Regions from separate parts of the Homo sapiens genome. Here region 2 is linked to region 1. Evidence: fine-mapped expression QTL. A gene starts in region 1. The other region holds a variant in brackets. All regions are shown on one strand. Distances are between the middles of the regions. Region 1 holds the start of CACNB4 (calcium voltage-gated channel auxiliary subunit beta 4). Region 2 overlaps CACNB4 (calcium voltage-gated channel auxiliary subunit beta 4).

The links. PIP is the estimated chance that this variant, and not a neighbour inherited with it, causes the effect.
Region 2: its variant is the best candidate, but not a certain one, in a credible set for the expression of CACNB4 in sun-exposed skin (GTEx, PIP 0.78).

Annotation. Positions count from the first base shown.
Region 1 is chr2:152,093,151-152,104,688 of GRCh38, forward strand. It overlaps CACNB4 (calcium voltage-gated channel auxiliary subunit beta 4), which reads right to left and starts at 5,894. Exons shown (of 14, transcript NM_000726.5): 1 at 5,799-5,894; 2 at 5,180-5,263. The coding sequence starts at 5,861. RefSeq lists a silencer at 5,803-6,092.
Region 2 is chr2:151,991,399-152,002,936 of GRCh38, forward strand. The region is part of intron 2 of CACNB4 (calcium voltage-gated channel auxiliary subunit beta 4); the gene reads right to left. Among named protein-coding and RNA genes, the nearest start is that of CACNB4, 100 kb to the right of the region's middle. RefSeq lists enhancers at 7,710-7,789, 9,479-9,979. The variant T/G (reference allele first, on the strand shown) is at 5,491.

The DNA of each region.
Region 1 (11,538 bases):
CTGCTCAGTGTGATGTTTGCTGTGGATTTTAGTAGATAATTTTTATTAGATTTAGGGAGCTGCCTTCTCTTCTTTTTTTAAAATCACGTGCCTCTAGATATGCTCTATTCTTAACTTACAAAATTTATCAAATACTTTTTTGGCACCTACTGAAATCAACATATATTTTTCTTTAATTTGTTATATAAATTGAATAATCTTTACATTCCTGTTTATACTATTGGCACTGAATTTGACTTGCTGTTTTTTGGTGTGTGTGTGTGTGTGTGTGTGTGTGTGTATTTTTACCCATATGCTCTTTTATAACGTGACCTTGTTGCACCCCATCAAAAGATAGTCTGTTTTCTCTTTTGTTGCAACTGAGCAGGCTCTTGGACCTGTTTTGACTTGAGTTTGCAAGACAAGTGATACAGTGTAGCTTTCAAAACTGGGTCTTAGGAGAGCTGTGGCTTCAGCCTTCACTTCTTGGAACCTAGCCACCATATTATCCGGGAGCTCAAGCAACCATGTTGAGAGGCCCAGGTGGAGAAAAACTGAGCCGCTGCCAAAAGCTCTAGTTGAGTTCTCAGCCAGCAGCCAGCACCAACTGCCAACCACATGTGTGAGGCCACTCTGGACCTTCCAGCCATCCCAGTGCCCATATAACATCATACAATGCAGAACTGTCTGGTTAGTACACAGAAATAAAAAATTGTTGTTGTTTCAAGCCACAGAGTTTTGGGGGAGGTTAGGAGGCAATTTCTCCCCACTAAACAAAGCATTTAATGTTGGAGCAGAACCTCATGCCTAAAATATATCAAGTTAGTTCTCCATCCATCCACTGCTTCATTCATTCAAGTGTGTGTTTATTGAACATATACTATGCTAGATGCTGAGGACACAAAGATCAAATGCAGACATGTCCCTGTCCTTGTGGAACTCATACGGATGGGGAGACAGAATGTAACAGAGAAATCTAAGTACATGTTAAATAAAAGCGGTGGTGCTACTGAAAACTGGCACAAGGCCCTCTGGGAGCCCCTTGTTGGGGAACTGACTTTATCAGGAAGGTTAGAAGAGGAAGTGAAGACTAAACCCCCAGATCTCAGGGAAGATTAAAAGTTAACTAGGCAGAAGGAAGGACAACAACCTGCCACACAGAGGGCTCAGCATATGCAAAGGACCAGTGGCAAGAGGGAAGACAGTGTGTTCAAACTCTGTGTCCAGAGCTAAGAGATCATGGCTCAAGATGAGGCTGGAAGCAGGCAGGGGCCAGGCCAGGTATGACTTTGCTGGCCTCATAAGAGCAGACTTAACAAGGAAAAGTCAACAAACTATTCCCACTCTGATCAGATTTTCTCTTCAAACCCCAGTGGGAAGAGGACTAACTTGGAGTACTCAGCCGTATAAACTGTATGTGTAGTGACACCCATGGGTAGATATACTTATGGATATATAATAGATACTCGGGGTACATGGTCATTGAGCCCGCCCTCTCGTTCCTTGTTACATGTCACCGTACTGTTTGTAGACATCTCTGTCTCCATTGCTAGATTATAAAAATCTTTGAGTACAGGGGCTGTGTCTCATCCATCTTTTCATTCCTCCCCTACAATATCTAACATAGTGCTAGGCACATAGCAAATACTTAAGTGTTTCCTAAAACTTTAAAATATGACTAGATAATCCATTCATAAATAGCCTGTAAGAAGGGCTCTCCTGAAAGAAAATTCTATGGCCTCATTTGGAAAGCCACTCCAATGATGGCAACACTCTTAGGAAGGTCTTGCTGTAAAACATCATTCCTTTCTAATTTGGGCCAGTTCTTGAGTTTCATCCCCAATGAAGAGTGAGAACACTTCATCACATTTCCAAAGAAAGCCTTTGTGTGTACTTTGAAGATCATTTCTGGGTCACTCCTAGCTTTCTTTCCTTTCAGCGGCAAAGTACTTCATCTTCTCACCTTTCCTCAAAGAAGCCATTTATTTGCTCCCTGGATTCATTCCAAAACCTCCATCCCTCCTAAATGGTGGAAGCCAGAAATCTTGTAGACCAGAAACAAGGTCAAAGATTCCTGAGGGGCTTCATGAGCAGTCCTCAGAGTGGAAGCAGGCTCTCTTTCTCAGTCTGCTTGTTTTCCAGCCAATTCAAATGTTCATGTGTGTGCATGCACACATATGTGCATATATAGTCTCAGAAACACTGAAACTTTTTAACAAGCTCAAAGAACAAATATTGTCTTATTGGGTGAGTTGCCAACTGCCTTCTCTGCTTCACCAACAGCCCAGTCTTCCCCATCCAATGTAACACATCGATTTTTTTTTTAATGAAAGCTTTTCTCCATATTTTTGTAAATAATATGATAAAGAAACTAGCAATATATATATTTTTTGGTATTCCACTATCTTCTTCAAAGGCATCACAAAGACTGTGAAACAGCACCAAGAAATTTCATCACTCCAATGTATCAAGAATTCAAATATCAATAAATCACTGGTCATTCTACAAATAATGAGACTCTGTTTTTGTTTGTTTGTTTGTTTGATGGAGTCCTGCTCTGTCGCCCGGCTGGAATGCTGTGGAGCAATACTGGCTCACTGCAACCTCCACCGCCTAGGTTCAAAAAATTCTCCTGCCTCAGCCTCCCGAGTAGCTGGGATTACAAGCACACACCACCACGCTTGGCAAATTTCTTTGTATTTTTAGTACAGTCGGGGTTTCACCATGCTACCAGGCTGGTTTGAAACTCCTGACCTCAAGTGATCCGCCCACCTCAGCCTCCCAAAGTGCTGGGATTACAGGCGTGAGCCACTGTGACCAGCCCAAGGCTCTGTTAACGTAAGCAGCTGTTATGCTTTCATAAAAAATATTTTTTGGCATTGGGGTGATTTCAATTTTATCCGAAAGTTATTGTTAAACTGCATTTGTAATCATTTTCCTTATCTCATCAAAGAAATGTAAATCCCTCAGTTATTTTTATTGTAGCCAATACAGAAGTCTGTATGATGTCATTTGAATGAGATCATGTGTAGTATACTCAGTGAGTTGTAAAGTGCTCATAAAAATTAAGTAGCCCGGGCATGGTGGCTCACGCCTGTAATCCCAGCACTTTGGGAGGATGAGGTGGGCAGATCACGAGGTCAGGAGATAAAGACCATCCTGGCTAACACGGTGAAACCCTGTCTCCACTAAAAATACAAAAAAGTTAGCCAGGCGTGATGGCGGGTGCCTGTAGTCTCAGCTACTCGGGAGGCTGAGGCAGGAGAATGGCGTGAACCCAGGAGGCAGAGCTTGCAGTAAGCAGAGACTGCGTCACTGCACCCCAGCCTGGGCGACAGAGCAAGACTCCGTCTGAAAAAAGAAAAAAATTAAGTACTATTTTTGTGCCGAAAAATAAGATTGTGTATATAATACAATTACAATTAACTCCTGAATTTAAATTAGACCATTTAATCAAACCAATGAATTCCCATTTCATAGATGAAATATATTTATTTAAAAAAATCTACTTTGCTTTAAATTATTCCCAAAATTATTTAGCATGCAATACTTTTAACATTTCTTAAGCCAGCACATAGCAGCACGCTTTACAAGAACTTATATATACATCATCTCAATCAGTTACGGGCATAAATTGAGAAAAGAGTAAGAATATTAGAATATTATTTTGTTTGTGCTTGGAAGGAAGAATAAAGCATTAGTGCAGTTATGTAGATGAACTCAAAAGTTTTAGTCAAACAGCTTATGGAAAGAACTGCTGTGTAATTAGTATTTCCAAGAATTTGCAACAATGAAACACCACTAAAAATAGGCACCTACAAAATAAACACCAGCAAGACCTCAAACAGTTGCATAACAGAAAAATGTTTTTAAGATAAACAATATGTTTGCCTTATCAAATACATAATCTAAATACTGCAAAGGGGATAGAATGCACTTTTAGAATGAATTCGGAATCCAAAATGCATTTATTTCCATAATGTACATGCTTAGTGCTCGCTGAATTAAATGGTAGTCAAAATTTCCGCTTCTGCAGAAAGTGAAATTCTGCATAATAAATATCATCTAAATATGCTTTATAGACCCTTTTAGGAGAGGTCTGAGTTCAATTTTGATATCAATTCCTCGTTGATATGTTTAAATTGATGATAATCACTAAAGAAACACCAGAGCTGCCATCATAGGTTAGAAAACACATTACACAATACTGAGTGACCTAGAGGGAAAAGAACTTCTCAAGGTCACTCCAGCAGCCCACAGGAAGACCTGGGATAAAAGCCTCTTGGTGCGATGACCAATGTCTTCCTAGGTCACCCGAAACCTAGGACACACCCCGACAATTTCTGTTCCAAAGAAAGATCAAGGTGACTCATTGCATGATCTCTCTAGCACCCAGCAGCCAGGGGTGGTTTCATTAACAGCACATGGACAGTTGGAAAACTGAGGACCAATTTCCTGTGCCAAGGTGAAAGGCACCTAAGCATTGAGCATTACCAGCGATCCGGAGATCCCGAGCACAGACAATTCGCACTAGAACCACGCAGGAGAAAGCAAGCACTAAGAAAACAAACACGAAGTGAAGGCGCACCCAGACCCGGAGCTGAGTGCTGGCCTTCGTTAATTCCTATTTAACCAGATACAGCTGTCTTTCCCTAACTAAGCGAATCCAAGAAGCGGTCCTAAAGTGAGAGTAAACTTTCTGCTCAGTGTCTTTCTTTTGACCGGAGCTTGACGATCTCTCCCAAGATCCAGACAGATAAGAGTATTCAAATTAGGACAAAACAGAAGAAACCACTAAATCTCAACTCGAATCAAACCAGGTCCCCGGCCCCGAGGGGTCTGGTTACTCTAGGTCGAGTTATACGAATTAAAGACATTTCTCCACGCACCAAAGATACAACCAGACATATTTCCAGCTCTTAAATTCAACGTCCCTGACTTAAGCCAGGTCCCCACCGAACTGTCCACACACATGCACAAACTAACTTCCCGGGGCGGTGCGGAGACGCCGGGACGCGAAGACGTCAAGAGCCCAGGCTAGAGGGAGAGGGACTGAGCCCGAGCACCGGCCGAGGCCGGGAAGAGACGCGCGCGGGCTTGACCCGCAGCTCCCGCACGTGTGGGCCACGGCCGGCTCCAGGACCCCCGCGCCGCGCGCTCGGCCTCCTCCCCATCCTGGTCTCCCGCCTCCTTCTCATACCTGTCTGAGGATGAAGCTGGTCGAAGTGGTGCTGCCATCGGATCTTTTCAACCTGCTCCTCCGGGTTGTGGTGCCTCGGGCCACCTGGACTCGACACACGGGGGCCAGAGAGAAGCCGGTGAGGACCGCAGCGCAGAGCGGGGCGACCACCCCCGGCTGGAGTCCGCCTCCGGACCCGCTCCCTGGGGTCCCCTAGAGCCCGCACCCAAGTCTCCTCCGCGACTCCCAAATACAGCCCCCACCCCCACCCACCCACTGCAAGCCTCGACTGCTGAAAAGATGCTCGAGAAGAGCAGCCCGCAAGCACCCACCACATCCATTAACAAAGACTCTCAGGGTGCGGGGTCCGAGTCCCCGGCATCCGCTGGGGGAGGCTGCGGGCTCCGGAGCGGGAGCGCAGAGACCCGAAGGAGGGTGAGGAGGAGGAGGAAGAGAAGGAGGAGAAAGAGGAGGAGCGGGAGGAGAAAGGGACGTGGAGGAGGGGTGGGGGGAGCGGGGCCGCCGACTCCCGGGACTGGGGCCCCGCACGCCCGGCACGAAGGCGGGGCGCGCTAGGGCGGCGGAGGAGGTGTGAGGAAGGAAGAGGAGGAAGAGGAGAAGGGGGAGGAGGGGGCGGTACCTGCGAGGTGGGGGAGTGCGGCCCGTCCGCGGTCCCGTTCTTGGCGTAGGAGGAGGAGGACATCGTTCAGAGCCGCCGCATGGCCAGCCCGTGTGCGGTGGGCGGAGGGGGCTGGCCCCCGAGGCTGGGCTGCGGACGGAGGGGGAGGGCGCAGGACTTCCCCACCCGGCTCCAGGACCCGCGCCGGCGCCCAGGCTCCCTGCCCGCACTTCGGAGAGCGCGGCACCTTAAAGGGACCGAGGCGCTTCCCCCGCGCTCGCGGCGGGGTCCCGGGGAGGGGGCTTCTCGGAAACTCGCCTACCCGAGCGGATTGGGAGAAGCGCTCTCCCACCTAGCAAGCGCTTTACATCAGAGCTTCCAGAGGATGAAGGGAGGGGGAAATCTGGGATGGGGGTGGCAAGATTAAAATAGTCTGCACAGTTTAAAATGAGACAAAGGTGGCACGGTTCATGAATCAGGACTTGGGGACGGAAGCTGGTGCAGTGTGGCGGGAATGGGAAGAACCGAGCGGGTGTGTGTGTGTGTGTTTGCTGCACTGGAATTTTAAAAGGGCAAGAGCAGAGCCACCTTCCGCGACTTCACTCATCAGCCTAATGTGTAAGGCATGGGGTTTTGTGGCTTGCTTTTCGTCCGTGTTTTTGTATTGCTTTGGCAATTCTGTCCTTAGAGCTGCGAGTCACACACATCCAGGCAGCTGTGAGAAACCCAGCCAGCCTGAGTCTGACGGGAGATGCTGCCCCGCCAAAGACCAGTATGTCCTACGGAGTTTTGAAGGTCATGTTAGACCTGCTAAGAAGCAAGAGTTGGTCACTGTGCCTCCCATTTCTATGCGAATGGATATTTTCAAGGGGGAGAAACTCATCCTTGCAACCATACACAACGTTTGCCATTGGTTTCCTCCTGTAAATACATACAAGAGATTAATTTGTGATCAAATTAAAAGAGAGGGATTGCGGAAAGGAAGAATAAGTGCGAGGTATTGACAGAGGAATAAGAAGAGGGAAGAAAAGTATATGCAAATTCAAAAATAAAGAGACTCCGTTTAAATTAAAATATACTTACTATCTCAAATCGCTAAATCAGCTTGCATTCTAGGACTTTATGTTTATGGACACAACTACCATGCTTGTTTTAATAATTGCTTGGCTTTATTGAGGTCCTGGTTATATCTTACCATCCACCAGACACTTCCTTTCCATTCCTAATCCCTTCACTTAATCCAAACCTCTGTAACAATCTTATAACTAATGTCCTTGCCTCCAGGCTTCCTGGTGCATGTGCACGTATGCACATGCACACATACACACGCAGAGATTTCATTCCATCTACACACTACAGGCAAAACCATTTTCCTAAAATATCTTGCCCAAGTCACTCTTCTCTAAGATAAAGTCCAAACTCCATGGTCCAACAACTCAGCCTCTCCTGCATTTCTGATCACTCTCCATCTCATTTCTCCATCTTGATCTCTCTATACAAACCTTCCAGCAAGCAGGCAGGTCTAGTCATCAATACCCAAGTATTCCAAATACAATCACATTTGAGCTCTTCTGCTTTGGAATGCCTCCTTGGAATATGCCCTCCCAACAACCTACACACCCGGCTGAATCCTACCTTTCTTCTAAATGGGACTCAGCTCACGCTTCCTCCACAGAAATCCTATCTGACTACTCCAGTCCCACATAATTCTTGTGCTTCTGAAAAACTGGAGCATGTATTCTCTGGGCACTTAGAATAGGCTGCCTTAGCTTATTAGTTTGTTAGTTCTGTTTTTGTGAAAATCTCCTAATTTTCAGAATTTTTAGCGGTTTATCTTCTATTCCTATACCTTCCATATAGTAGATACTCCATGAATTTATGGGGAATGGAGGTCTAACCATGCAGGACTCCCTACTTTAGTTACTGTCAACCCAATCCGTATTTAGTTCTGAGCCATTTTCATAGTTGATACGTGTGTGCATATTAAATTACTATGTGAGCACTGGACTTTGAATTGTGTGGTTTTCCACTGTCCACATTCTCACTGACTTTAAGTTATTGAAACAGAACCCACAGAGGCATAACAACATGAGAAGCCCTGTACACCCAGCTCAAAGCAAAACTGGTGAAAATTATATGTTTTATATATAAGCAACCATTTAAATTTCTAAAAATGGTCCTAAAGGTGCACAACAAATGAAGGAACATTTATTCAAGAAAACCTACTGAAACCCAGTAAGAAAAGTGAGCTTGAGGTATTTGAACCAAGACCTACTCACTCTTTTCATGCTTCCAACTCAGAGAGGGCTCCACGCTATACTGGTGCAGCCAAGAACACAGGGCTCCCTCACCCTTCAGCTCCCAGTTGGAGGGTCAGCTTCCTAGGAGGGACAAAACATCAGCATTTGTCATCCTCCCCGCAGCTACCTGTTGTTGAGACTAAGTTCTAAGCAAGTATGGCAGAGGTGGGGGCTCCCTTCTTCTGCCCAGTTGTACCTGGAGGCTGTACCTTGGCCACAGCAGCACTGAGTGTACTTGGGCCTTGATCACCTTTGCTTCTGGCTCATCGAGAAAGAAGTCAGGAAACGTGGGACTGCTTTGAGTGCTTCTGCCAGAAACATTCAGCATCTAACATGGTGATGTCACTCAGAGAGAGGTGCATCATTGTCCCTACCTCTGACACCAGAGTGGAAAAAATGATGTTGAACCCTGACCTTACATCAAGGATCCCCAACCCCCAGGCCACAGACTAGTACCAGTCTGTGGCCTGTTAGGAACTGGGCCACACAGCAGGGAGTGAGCGGTGGGGCAAGTGAGCATTATGGCCTGAGCTCCGCCTCTTGTCAGATCAGGGGTGGCATTACATTCTCATAGGAGTGCAAACTCTATTGTGAACTGCACATGCACGGGATCTAGGTTGTGGGCTTCTTATGAGAATCTAATGCCTGATTATCTGTCACTATCTCCCCTCACCCCCAGATGAGACCATCTAGTTACAGGAAAACAAGCTCAAGTCTCCCACTGATTCTACATTATGGTGAGTATGTAATAATAATAGAAATAAAGTGCACAATAAATGTAATGTGCTTGAATCATCCCCAAACCATCCTCCATCCCCGTCCCATAGAAAATTGATCTTCCATGAAACCAATCCCTAGTGCCAAAAAGGCTGGGGATTGCTGCCTTATATCATATACAAAAATTAACTCAAAATTAATCAAAGACTTAAAAGAGTTAAAAATATAAAACTATTAGAAGATAAGGGTAAATCTTCATGACCTTAGATTTGGCAATAAATTCTTAGACATGACACCAAAAGCATGAGTAGGAAAAGAAAAAAATGTTAGACAGGCATGGTGGTGCGTGTCTGTGGTCCCAGCTAACCAAGAAGCTGAGGTGGGAGGATTGCTTAAGCCCAGGAGGTCGAGGCTGCAGTGAGCTGTGACACGTCACTGTACTCCAGCCTGGGCACCACAGTGAGACTCCATCTCCGGCTCAAGCAATACCTCAGTCTTCTGAGTAGCTGAGACCACAGGTGGGCACTACCATGCCTAGCTAATTTTTTATTTTTTATAGAATTGTAGTCTCCTTGTGTTGTCCAGGCTGGTCTTGAACTCCTGGACTCAAGCCATCCTCCCACCTTGGCCACCCAAAGTGCTGGGATTACAGGTGTGAGCCACTGCACCCTGCCTAATTGTATACTTTGAGTGGGTGAATTGTATGGTATGTGAATTATATGTCAATAAAGTTATTATTTTTTTAATCTTCAGATCTTACAGAAAAATTAACTCAAAATGGATTACAGACCTAAGTGTAAATGCAAAACTACGAAACCTCTAGGGGAAAACAGAAGACAAAATCTCCATGAGTCTGAGTTTGGTGTTGAGATTTTACACCACCACCAAAAGCATGATGCAAGAAAATAAAAATTGATATTCTGGGTTTAATTAAAATTAAAAATTTCTGCTCTGTGAAAAACTCTGTTAAGATAATAAGAAGACAAAGAACTTGTAAACAAAATATACAAATAACTCTTAAAACTCAACTATAATAGGCCAGGCTCGGTGGCTCACGCTTGTAATCCCAGCACTTTGGGAGGCCGAGGCGGGTGGATCACAAGGTCAGGAGATTGAAACCATCCTGGCTAACATGGTGAAACCCTGTCTCTACTGAAAATACAAAAAATTAGCCGGGCATGGTGGCAGGCGCCTGTGGTCCCAGCTACTCGGGAGGCTGAGGCAGGAGAATGGCATGAAGCTGGAAGGCAAAGCTTGCAGTGAGCCAAGATCACGTCACTGCACTGCTGCCTGGGTGACAGAGCGAGACTCCGTCTCAAAAAAAAAAAAAAAAAAAATTCAACTATAATAAACAATTCAAATAAAAAATGGACAAAAGTAGCAGGGGGTTGTGGCTCATGCCTGTAACCCCAGCACTTTGGGAGGCTGAGGAGAGAATTGCCCAAGAAGCCGGGAGATGAAGACCATTCTGAGCAACAAAGCAGGACTACATCTCTACAAAAAAAAAAAAAAATTAGCCATGCGCAGTGGGTGGCATGCGCCTGTAATCCTAGCTATTTGAGAGGCTGAGGTGGGAGGATCCCTTGAGCCCAGGAGTTTGAGGCTGCTGGGAGCCATCATCTCACTACTCTACTCCAGCCTGAGACACAGGAGACCCATCTCTAAAATTTGAAAAAAAAAATGTATTTAAATGAACAAAATATTTTAATGGATACTTTACCAAAGAAGACACATAGATAGCAAATAGGCACATGACAAGATGTTCAACATCATTTACTTTAGGGGAAATGCAGATTAAAACAACAATGCAATGCCACTATACACCTATAAGGATGACTAAACATAAAAATGATAATAGCAATGGCTAGTAAGGATAAGGAGCAATAAGAACTCTCATTCATTGCTGATGGTAATGCTAAATGGTACAGCCACTTAGGAACATACCTGAGCAGTTTCTTAGCAGTTTCTTAACAAGCTAAACCATCTTATACAATCCAGCAATCGAGAACCTAAGTATTTATGCAACTGATCTGAAAATTTGCATCCACACAAAGACCATGCAAATGTTTAATAAGTTTATTCACAATAACCCAACACTGGAAGCAACCAAGGTGTCCATTAATGGGTAAATGAATAAACAAAGCATGGTCTAATCATATGATAAAATGATAAAATACTATTCAGCTATCAAGTCATAAAAAAAAGGGATAAACCTTAAATGCATATTGGTAAATGAAAAAAGCCAGTCTGAGTCTATATACTATTTGGGATTCTAGAAAAGGCAAAGCTATAAAGACAATAAACAGATCAGTGGTTCTGGAGGGGGTGATGAAGACGGCAGGTTGAATAGGTGGAGCATGGGGGGTTTTTAAGGGTGATGAAACTGTTCTGTATGATACTGTAATGATGGATACCTAACATGGATCTGTCAAAACTATAGAACTTCACAGCATAAAGTAAGCCTTAATGTGGGTGAATTAAAAAGAAAATCATTGAAGATGTTGAGAGATCAGGATGGAATGCAGAATGTGACAAAAGAATATAACTGTATTACAAATATATTAAACAATGTCACTGAAGAATGTGGAGAAAATGGCTGCTGGCCTAAGTAACCCTGGAAATGAGTGGCGCCTGTAAGACTAAAAGGAACTGTGCATAAGCATTGTACTACGGTTGATACATTGTTTCTGAGGAGTGTGGGTTAACTATTCTGAAATCACTATATGTATACACTGGAACTGAAC
Region 2 (11,538 bases), 100 kb before region 1:
AATCTCTTTACATGTTTTTCTCTAACCTGAGTCCTCCTCTCACCTGAAGATGGAGCACTGAGCCAGATGACTTTTCATTGTCTCTTGTTATAATTTTCCACATGTGGTTTTGAACTGGGAGTAGCCATTAGGTGACGAATTCTGAAAATGGGCTAAATGACATGCCAAAAACTGAAAAATGGGGTGTGAAGAATGTGCTTCTTGCTTTCTAAAGCATAACCATAGGAATGCAGGGCTTCTGAATGTCTTCTTTTTCTTAACATGACAATAAGAAACAAACAATCTTTTTCTTCATCTGTCTATTTTTCTGGCTTCCATTTTTTAAAAAAATCGTGAAAAACTATCTTTCTCTATAGGGAGTCAAAAGGAGATGCTAAAAGAGATGCTTCTAGTGATTTGTTTATCATTCTGTAATGGCGATTGTCTTAATTTGGCCTCCCTCAAAGCAGAACCTAAGATAACGACTTTCGGAGGGGATCTTAGGAAGCAGGAATGAGGGAAACAAAAGAGCGAATCCAGGAAGGAGGAAAAGTCAATGAAGAATACATAACTGATTTCCGATTGCAGAGAGGTAACTGGGACTCAGTCCCACTGAGAACTTCTAAGCGAGAGTAAAATGCTCTCCAGAATGGCCCCCCTGAAGGACAATGAGCTAGAGTACTTAATCCTCGACCCCCCTTCACCATTGGTGGAGAGGGCATTAAGTTTCCTCTATTTGGAGACAGGCCTGGATGGAGTAAACTCCTTCAAGGGAGAACCGTGAGGCAGAAGAGAGAAGGCAAACAGGCTGGATGCATAAGCACTGTCCACCACAGCTGCAGCTGAAGTCTACAGTGGGTCAGGGAGATGCATGCAGCCTGGCACCCAAAAAGTGCCAGCCAGAGTTATGTGTGGGTATAAGACAATGCAGCATGGCAAGCTACACCTACTTTTCAAAAAGCACGATTTCCTTCAGTTTATCCCGTGTCCCGGGGATTTTAATTAATAAACAGTGCACATTTACTCCCTGTATTATTAGTTTATCTTACAAGAATTAAGAACAAAATGCAAGAGCAACTATAGCTTTGGGACGTTGTTAGCATGTAACTATGGCAAGAAAAGAAGTATGATAACCACTGGAAGGAACAACTAAGTGTATACCTATGCTGGAGGGCTTTTACTTACCAACACAGAGTTCTAGCTTTTTCTGTAAATGGCGTGGCTGTTGCATGTCATTATGACAGTTGCTGAGATATGTGAATGCAAACCAGCACCCGGGGGAGCAGAGCAAATTTAAGTTTCTGGGAAAGCTACAAGCTAGCCACCATTGCAATCAGGAAGCAATCCTTAGTCCCATTTCTCACCTCATTCCAACTGGGACCCATTCAGTCACCCCTAGAGAAACTTGATGCTATGAGCACTTAGCCAATGTAAGCTGAGTATTTCACATCCTTTGACTGACTCTTACTCCTCCAAAGTCAAGGTTAAGCCATGTCACTAAAGATGCTTTGGAAATATTCCGCTTCCTAAATTGCAAATAGTTCTGCAAGCAATGCAAACAGAACATTTAAGTTCTCAGGACTGTCAAAATGACACCTTCATCAGCTTCCAAATCTGGTAATTATTGTCTTCCTCACACCCACGAAAAGGACTGAAATTGAGTGGATCTCACAAGGTTCTCAGCTCTGGTGTCTTTTTTGGTAGGTGTGGGAAGAAGGGACAAGAAAACATCTTGAATAAGGTCAGAGTCAGAGACAGTAAGCCACGTTTTTTGTTTTTTTTTTTTTTAAACATCTTTTTTACTATCAAGGCTTTTACCCACAAGCTTTCCTCCTTGTTTGGAAGCACATTTTTGATCACTAACTATATCTAGAAACACTCCTTGAGACAAAGTAATTTGTAGATACCATTTTTGTTTGACCCAAGAAGCCCAGACCTACTTTCAGGGACAGGAAATAGGAGCCTGGGGCCCAGGAGAAATGATATTCATGGTAGCCAATGAAAGTGGAACTGGACGAGAAGGTACACAGGGCAAAGTGCCAAAGCAAGGATGAAACACACAGCAGTGAGAATTCATAGGCCAGATGAGGCACACAAATTACAAGAGGGGCCAGGTAAGGAACCAGAAAAACAGGATAGTGCCAGAGACTACTTCTCTGAACACGGAGGCATAGGTTGGGGAGCACTTTTTTTTTTTTTTTTTTTGAGACGGAGTCTTGCTCTATCGCCCAGGCTGGAGTGCAGTAGCACAATCTTGGCCCACTGCAACCTCTGCCTCCCAGGTTCAAGCGATTCTCCTGCCTCAGCCTCCCGAGTAGCTGGGAGTACAGGTGTGTGCCACCACGCCGGGCTAATTTTTGTATTTTCAGTAGAGACGGGGTTTCACCATGTTGGTCAGGCTGGTCTCGAACTCCTGACCTTGTGATCCGCCCACCTCGGCCTCCCAAAGTGCTGGGATTACAGGCGTGAGCCACTGTGCCCAGCCGGGGACCACTTTTAAAGTTGAAAAAGTGGCCAGGCACAGTGGCTCATGCCTGTAATCCCAGCACTTTGGGAGGTCAAGGCAGGAGGATTGCTTGAGCCCAGGAGTTTGAGACCAGCCTGGATAACATGGCAAGACCCTATCTCTACAAAAAATTTAAAAATTAGCTGAGTATGGTGGTGTGTGCCTGTAGTCTCAGCTACTTGGGAGGCTGAGGTAGGAGAATTGCTTTAGCCCAGGAGTTTGAGGCTGCAGTGAGCTATGCTGGAATCACTACACTCCAGCCTAAGTAAGAGAGAAAGACTCTGTTTCTTAAAAAAAAACACCACCGAGGATTAAATTTTCCTGTCTGGAATCCAGAAAAAAAGGGTCCCTTTTCTTTTTTTTTCAGACACTGTCTCACTCTGTCGCCCAGGCTGGAGTGCAGTGGCATGATCATGCTTTACAAAGCGATTCTTCTGCCTCAGCCTCCCAAGTAGCTGGGATTAAAGGCGTGTGCCACCACACCCAGCTCATTTTGTATTTTTAGTAGAGACGGGGTTTCAGCATGTTGCCGGGCTGGTCTCAAACTCCTGGCCTCAAGTGATCTGCCCACCTTGGCCTCCCAAAGTGCTGAGATTACAGGCGTGAGCCACCATTCCCAGCCAAAAGGGTCCCCCCTTTTTTTTTTGAGGCACAGTCTCACTCTGTCGCCCAGGCTGGAGTGCAGTGGTACAATCTTGGCTCACTGCAACCTCCACCTCCTGGGTTCAAGCAATTCTCGTGCCTCAGCTTCCCAAGGAGCTGGGATTAGAGGCGCCTGTCCCTTTTCTACAGGCTGCCTCATAGGCTCCTTAAGCAAATATGACTGCCTGCCCCACCTACATCTAGGAGATACATCATTTAGGCCAGGTTTTCCTTTTAGCCTCCTGATTTCTATTAGCCTTGCAAATGCATTTTTCTTTTCTTTCTTTCTTTTTTTCTTTAGAGACAGAGTCTTGCCCATGCTGGTCTTGAACTCCTGGCCTCAAGTGATCCTTCTGCCTCAGCCTCCCAAAGTACTGAGATCACAAGTGTGAGCCACCATATCTAGCTGCCTTGTCAATTCTTGCAATAATTTTTGTTCCCAAGTGAAAATAGAAATTAAATTTAAACTTGAGGTCCAGTTTGATGCTGATCAAACAAGGAATTAAATAAATTTGCAGAAACTTTGGTTTTTACATCTCTCAGAAGTATATGCTCAACAAGACATATTCCAAATTATTACTGGCCTACTCAGTTGGCAAATATAAGTGCCAAAAAGGTTGCAAGCATAAATGCCAAAGTAACTGCCCCCTCCCCCCGCCCAAGGCTATCCCTTAGACACACACCAGGAGTGTTTTGGGTACTTTATATGACAAAAATAAAAATGTACCTCAAAAACACTCCCAGGCCATAACAATAAACCACAAGGCCAAAGTCATTACAAGGTAAAATGAGAAAACATCATGTGAATTTTTTGAGTGTAAGATTTATGGCTCACAGCCTTTCAGTCATGTGCTTAGCACAAAAAGAAGCAGAATACATTAGATTTAATAGGCATTAGCCAAAAAAATAAGGAAGTAAGTTCATACACAAAATGATTCAAAGCATAATATCACTTAACAGACATGCTTTATTAAAGTCTGTACCATCCTGGCTAACACAGTGAAACCCCGTCTCTACTAAAAATGCAAAAACAATTAGCCTGGCATGGTGGCGGGCACCTGTAGTCCCAGCTACTCGGGAGGCTGAGGCAGGAGAGTGGCGTGAACCCAGAAGGTGGAGCTTGCAGTGAGCCAAGATCACGCCACTGCACCCCAGCCTGGGTGACAAAGCGAGACTCCGTCTCAAAAATAAAATAAAATAAAATAAAGTCTGTCATTTAGAAGTCTGCAGAGCCTACCAACATTGCCTGGCAGTTGGGCCCTATGTTGGGAAACTACCTACCAGTACCTGGTAAAGCTATCAACTTCTCCTGAGACAAGGCAAACTGCTCTTTGGGCTGGTTTACTTCAATATTTACTCCAGCTCTCCAAATAGCTTTCATTCTCCTGAACTAGTGGAGGGCTGACCTTGCAAACAAGTTCAAAGCAGTTCAAAGTCTGCAAAGAGAAAATCTACTTTTAGATGAATGGTCGGAGCAAGTCCTTATGAAGAAGAAAGGCTGGCTTCTGTTTGTTGTTATTTTTCCTATATAAGTCTACAAACACCAGCACCAGACATGGTAATCCTTCAGACAATTCACTTGGATTCAAGAACGGTATTGCCCGTAATAGATACTAGTATGAAATTTTAAAAATCCATTTGCTTACAGGCTTCTCACTACTGGCTAGCTTGGAAACAAGTTGAATACAACCACAGCATTCATTTCTTTTACTCATTTATTGAATGAAGATCAAACACAGCAAAGTCAAGGCTTAACCTCTCCTGTGTGCTCATTTGGCTGTGAGTGTCAAGACCCTCATATACTGCTTAGACAACCAAAGATTAATAGAGTGAGACCCCCTCAAGAGTCACTGTGATTCAGAAGCTCAGAACAGAGAACTCATCGGGGCTGCAGTGAGCTGTGATCACGCTGCTGCACTCCAGCCTGGGCAACAGAGCAAGACCCTGTCTCTTAAAAAAAAAAAAAAAAAAGAATAGAGAACTCAGAAGCTCTTAGTCTTAATGCTATGTCAGCCCACAACTTGCCAAGTGACCTTACATAATCCTTCTGGCTTTCAGTTTTTTCCATTTTCAAACTGAAGAATGTGAGTGACTCAAAAATAAATAGCCCAATATCCCCTCCTGTCCCAAGGTTTTTACCTTTCTTTCCAATCTGGGCTGAGTAAACCTGCCATTCCTTTCCATGATTAAAGAAGGCAGAAACCTCAGAATATTTTTCTTATTTTCTGTCACTTGATTTCCTCCCTTTTGAATACCAGTTTCTAAAATCCTAGTGTCTTGCCCAGGAAACTAAAGAAAAGGAGGCAGAGATGGAGTCACAGAAATGTCATCACAGACAGACACAGGAAAGGCTCAAGAGAAGC[T/G]CCTGCTTTCAAACTGGCAGCTGTTACCTGTTGGTGTTTAAGAAAAAAAATAACACAAACCTAGTCCCTAGGGATGAGGTGTTCCAATGGTTGTATAAATATACATCACAGGGTATAAGGGCCAAGGGGTTTTTTCATTTCACTATGAAAATGTTAAGTAAATAAATACACCCTGTAGTGAGCTGAGTGATGACCCCACACCAAAAGATACATCTGCATTCAAATCCCTGGAACCTCTAAATGTGACCTCATTTGGAAAAAGGGTCTTTGCAAATTTAAGTTAAGGATGTTGCAATGAGATCATCCTGGATTACTTGAATGGGTCCTAAATCCAATGGCAAGTGTCCTTATAAGAGACAAAGGGGGCCAGGCGCAGTGGCTCACGCCTGTAATCCCAGCACTTTGGGAGGCTGAGGCAGGCGGATCACGAGGTCAGGAGATCGAGACCATCCTGGCCAACACGGTGAAACCCCGTCTCTACTAAAAATACAAAAAATTAGGCAGGCGTGGTGGCGGGCGCCTCTAGTCCCAGCTGCTCAGGAGGCTGAGGCAGGAGAATGGCGTGAACCCAGGAGGCAGAGCTTGCAGTGAGCTGAGATCGCGCCACTGCACTCCAGCCTGGGAGACAGAGTGAGACTCTGTCTCAAAAAAAAAGAGACGAAGGGGACAAAGGGGAGAAGACACAGAGGACAAGGTGACATGAAGATGAATGCTGAGATTGGAGTGATGTAACCATGAGCCAAGAAGTCACGGAATGCTAACGGCCACCAGACGCTGGAAGGTCAAGGAACGAAATTCTCCCCCAGAGCCTTCCAAGGAAGGCAACCCTGCTGACACCTTGATTTCCAACTTCTGACCCCTACAACTGTGAGAAAATAAATGTGTGCTATTTTACACCACCGGCTTTGTAGTACTTTGTTGCAGCAACCTCAGGAAACAAGTATGTCCTAAACCCAACCACAGTCAAATTCCTAAATTAATCCCTTTTTAATACATGATACTATCTTTTTCACTTTCGTGGGAGCCATCATTTCAGAATATTTCTCAATGTTTTTCAGCCTCATTACTCTATTACACTGGCACAAATTTATCTACAGATCCCGAAGTCTACTCTACCTTCCAGAAATGAATGTTTATCAAAAAGTTGAAATAGGCTGGGCATGGTGGCTCATGTCTGTAATCCCAGCACTTTGGGAGGCCAAGGTGGGGGGATCGCCTGAGGTCAGGAGTTCAAGACCAGCCTGGCCAACATGGTGAACCCCTGTCTCTACTAAAAATACAAAAAAATTAGCTGGGCATGGTGTTGCACACCTGTAGTCCCAGCTACTCAGGAGGCTCAGACAAGAGAATCGCTTGAACTCAGGAGGCGTAGGTTGTGGTGAGTGGAGATGGTGCCACTGCAATCCAGCCTGGGCAACTCCATCTCCAAAAAAAAAAAAAAAAAAAAAAAAAAAAGTTGAAATTAAGTAAATTATGTAAACTGGAAAATATGCGATAAGTAGAAAGAGAATATCATCTGAGGTAGCAAAACCCAGTTTTGGTTCCTTACTCTGCTACATGTTACCTGAATGAACTTGATCAAGTCCCTGAACTTCCTTAACTTCTCAGAACCTCAGCTGTCTTATTGGTAAAATGAAACCATAAGTGCCATTTGCCTCACAAGATTGTTATGAGGCTCAGATGAAAGATGTGGAAATGATAAGGCCTGTACAGAAATCCACGGTGCTTATTATCCTTCCTCTCAGTATTCTGTCTCCCCTCCACGGGGGCACTAAGTCCATCTAGCAGGACCAGCAATGCATACAGCCAATAATAGGCTGGTCATCCCACATCTGCATCATTGGAATGCTGTATTCAGCACACCCCCCAGAAAATCTATTTTCACAGTGAGCCTCTCCCCTGCGTTCGAGGGCTGTCTACCCTAGTCTATGAGAATAGGGACATCGGTGGGCAGCCAGGTCTCCCAATGGATGTCTGAGCAGTGAGCAAGAGGGTGACCCACCTCTCCACCAAAGTGTGAAAAGCTTTCCCCTGGAGCTTGGTGAGCTTCACCCTCACGAAGATGCAAAAGTACCTTCTGCTTCTCTGTCACCTTGGTGCCAATGTAGGGACTCACACCCCGGGGCTGAGCCTGAATTTTATTTGGAGAACAGTTCTTGCAGCTTTAGCCTGAGAACAAATGCGGCTGTCAGCTGCTTGGCATAAGGAATCAGTAGGAACAGGGTGTCTTTTAATTAATTATCCAGACAATCAATCACTCACTCCATGGCCTACTCATGACCTCCACTAGATGGCGCAGGTGGTGCTTCTTCCCAGCTCCAGCCCAGAACGGTGCTCCCCTTGGACAGTTCATGTCCGCCCCCTCTGGGTTTTTTGCTCTATCTTTTAAAATCCAGTCCCCAGTCCCATCTGCTGGTACCTTCGGGACAATCCTCAGAATTTCTTTCCAGTTGATGGTACCTTATTCTGTCTGCCCGCCCTGTTATGGTTTTTTTTTTTTCTTCTTATACCCTTTGGGGGAATCATTTCAGTGAGATTCTGGGATGAAAAGGAAATAAATACTTATGTCATTCCAGCATCTTGACAAAGGAGCACCTATTTTTAAAATGCACAACAACAGCCCCAGTCCACTCCTTTACCTCTAACCCAATTTACCCAACGGAAATTTGCAGAGGTGGGGCCTAAGAATGCAGTTTCTTAAAGCCCCTTGGGTGATTCTGACGCACAGCCAGAGCCGAGAGCCAATGTGTTAATCCTCTTCTTGGTATAATTAAGGCAGCTTGTAGAGTAAAAATAAATCATTAGCAGCCATTTCATTTTGTTTAGGTACCAAGGCTATGCCACCCAAAAAGTTAATTGAAAATTACTAACCCAACTCCAGGACATAACTAGTACTTTGCAATCTACACCTTCTATCAGTGTGTGCTTTGTTAAATAAAACTCTTGGCGGGGAGAGTCTGGCTAGGATTCTATTCCCAAATTCATTTCTTCCTGTGTACCCTCAGTAATAACACTTCCCACCTACTTACCTCACAAGAGTGTTAATCAAAGGAATTTGAAAGCCATCTGAGCAAACTTTGTTGACTGAAATGGACACATAAGTATTGTATCAAAGCATTGTGTCATCAATCCTATAGCCTTTACTTAGAGATATTAACAAGAATATCATACTCCGACTTGACCTTTCCTCCCAGTCATACCTTTTATTGATCCTGAATTTTCAACAATGATGCTCATTTGCATCAGCAAATTGAGTTTCTTTCCTCCACCACCCACCTCACTCTTCAGGGGCTTTCGAGCTATGTCCTCCCTGCCAAGGCTTCACCACACCTACATGTCCAGACCTATCCTCCCAGAAACGAGATGGAGGGTCTGTGTAGAGTAGCAGCAAAATGTGGGGGCTATCTGGGACCAGACTACCTGGGTCCCAATCTCTGCACCATCTCTTGTTAGCAGTGTGGCCTTACACAAGTAACTAAAGCACCCTGCATCTAGTCTTCTCATCTGTAAAATGGGAATAAGAATTGTACCTCCTTCATAAGGTTGTTGTGAGAATAAGTGGATTCAAACCTGTGAAGGGCTTGGAACAGACACTGGAACATGATATTCCATATATGTTCTCTGTTGTCATTACAACTGGATGGCTCCATCTAGATGCATCCCGGATCCTGCAAACCCAAGACGTCTGTAACTAAATTCATTACCAGCCCCTCTAAACCTGTTCCAACTCTTGGTTCCTTTCTCAGTTAACAGCATCCATGTCAACCCAGTTGTCCAAACTGGAAACCTGAAAGGAATCCTTAACTCCCCATTTACTTTTCGTATATCCAATTAGCCACCAAATCCTCCCTCCCAGTGACAGCACTCTGTACCTACTCTCCCCTCCCAGCACTCACACGCCCCTGACCTCTTGGGCTGGGACAAGACTGCAGCGAGGACTGATGCTCATGGCCTGGGCGGAGGATGTGCAGAAAAGTGCGCGGGCTCTTGAGCCAGCGCAGATGTGGCTCTTCCACCGTCACCGCCCCAGAGGCCTCCTCATGGGCCTCCAGCCTCCCACCTCCAGCAGATTCTTCCTGAAGCATAACAATAGGTATGGCTTTTATCATGCCTACTGCATACCAGACACCATGCTAAGCAGTTTTCACATCAAATCTCACCGAATCTTTTCAACAACCCTACGAGGCAGGTACCATTAGGATTTCCATTTTACAGATTAAGAGGCTGAGCTACCAAAGGTCACGGTCAGTAAGTAGCAGTCAGGATTCAAACCTAGGAGGTCGGGATCAGAGCACATGGCCTTAACCACAGCCTCCTGCCTCTTGCCTCTCAACAAACTGGGCCTGGCCAAAGGCTGAGTGCCAAGGGGTGGTGGAAGGAGAGGGCAGCAAGAATGGGGCCTGAGACTCAGGCCCTGCCCTCTGGAAATTCACACTAAAGGCAGGGAGATGAAATGTGTATGTACCTGAATAAAACCACCATCTGGCAGGGTAGCGTCCATCAGTTAAAGAACGAGTCGGCCAGGCACGGTGGCGCATGCCTGTAATCCCAGCACTTTAGGAGGCCAAGACAGGTGGATCACCTGAGGTCAGGAGTTCGAGACCAGCCTGACCAACATGGTGAAACCCCATCTCTACTAAAAAAAAAAAAAAAAAAAAAAAAAAAAAATACAAAATTAGCCGGGCATGGTGGCACATGGCTATAATCCCAACTACTCAGGAGGCTGAGGCAGGAGAATCGCTTGAACCTGGGAGGCGGAGGTTGCAGTGAGCTGAGATCATGCCACTGCACTTCAGCCTGGGCAACAAGAGCAAAACTCTGTCTCGAAAGAAAAAAAAAAAAAAAGAGAATGAGTTTTACGGGTAACAAGTGCTTCCGGAGGATGATGTTTACATGAGTCTGGGATGTCAGGGAAGGAGCTTAGGAAAGCTGGCTCTTATGGGCTGTGGAATAGAATGTAAATAAGTGTAAATGGTCAGCAAGAGCTATCCTCATCAGGAGGATGCCAATGCAAAAATAGCAGGGAGGTGCGGGAGAGGTAGTCATTTTAGAAAGCTGGCTTCTGCCATTCTGCCAGCAAAAACCTAACTGTGCTAACAACGAGCATTTCTCCAAGGAGTGATCCACAGCACACCAAAGTCTTCACATGCCACACACCCCTACAAGAGGGACTGCTCACAACCTTTCCGTGTGTGCTTCAGGCATGATCATGGATATGAACAGCAATGCCGCACCTCCACGATCTGCAAGTCCCAGGAGATTTTAAAACAAAAGCCATCTCAGAGTTTCAGCAGTGGCTGACTTGCAGTACAGCAACATTTTTAAAGAGAAGAGGCTTTTTTTGTTCCTCTGTCCTCTTTCGTCCTCTTACTTGAAACACACACACACATACATATACACACACATGTGATGGCACTTCTTGATTCAATGAATTGGGAATATGATTTTTTTAGGAAGACAATTTTTTTAATACCAAATCATGTGGAGCTGATATAAATCAAAGATGTATCTGTGTGGGTCTTTCTCTGTTCATATATACAGCAAATACTGTCGAGGTTATACAGCGACCATGGCCTAAATAGCTGCAGTGGAAGATTTTGCAGATACTTCCCCAAAGCAAAATGTTATTGGAATCTATTCATTTTAATAAGAATTCTTCTGAGATCAAATATGCAACTTATCCAACTAACTAATTGTTGCCTTGGTCAAGTTAATTCACCTCTCTGAGACTTGGTTCTATCATCTATCAAATATATTTAACAATGTGTACCTTATACCACACAGAGTTGCTGTAAGAATTCAATGTAACCACATGTGATAGTGTGATTCAAATGTGCAGTATGGCTATTATCATTCACACCAAATAGATACAGCAGCATCAAAATGAGCTTGATACCATTCTATGTGGTGTTAGTGATGACCAAGGACTCAAAAGGAAGCATCTGTGGTTACATGCAATAAAGAGGTACTAGTGTTAGCAGGATTCCTATTTGAAATAACTTAGTATTTGCATTTTTGAGTTTAGCAGAAAGTCTCCATTTGAATTAA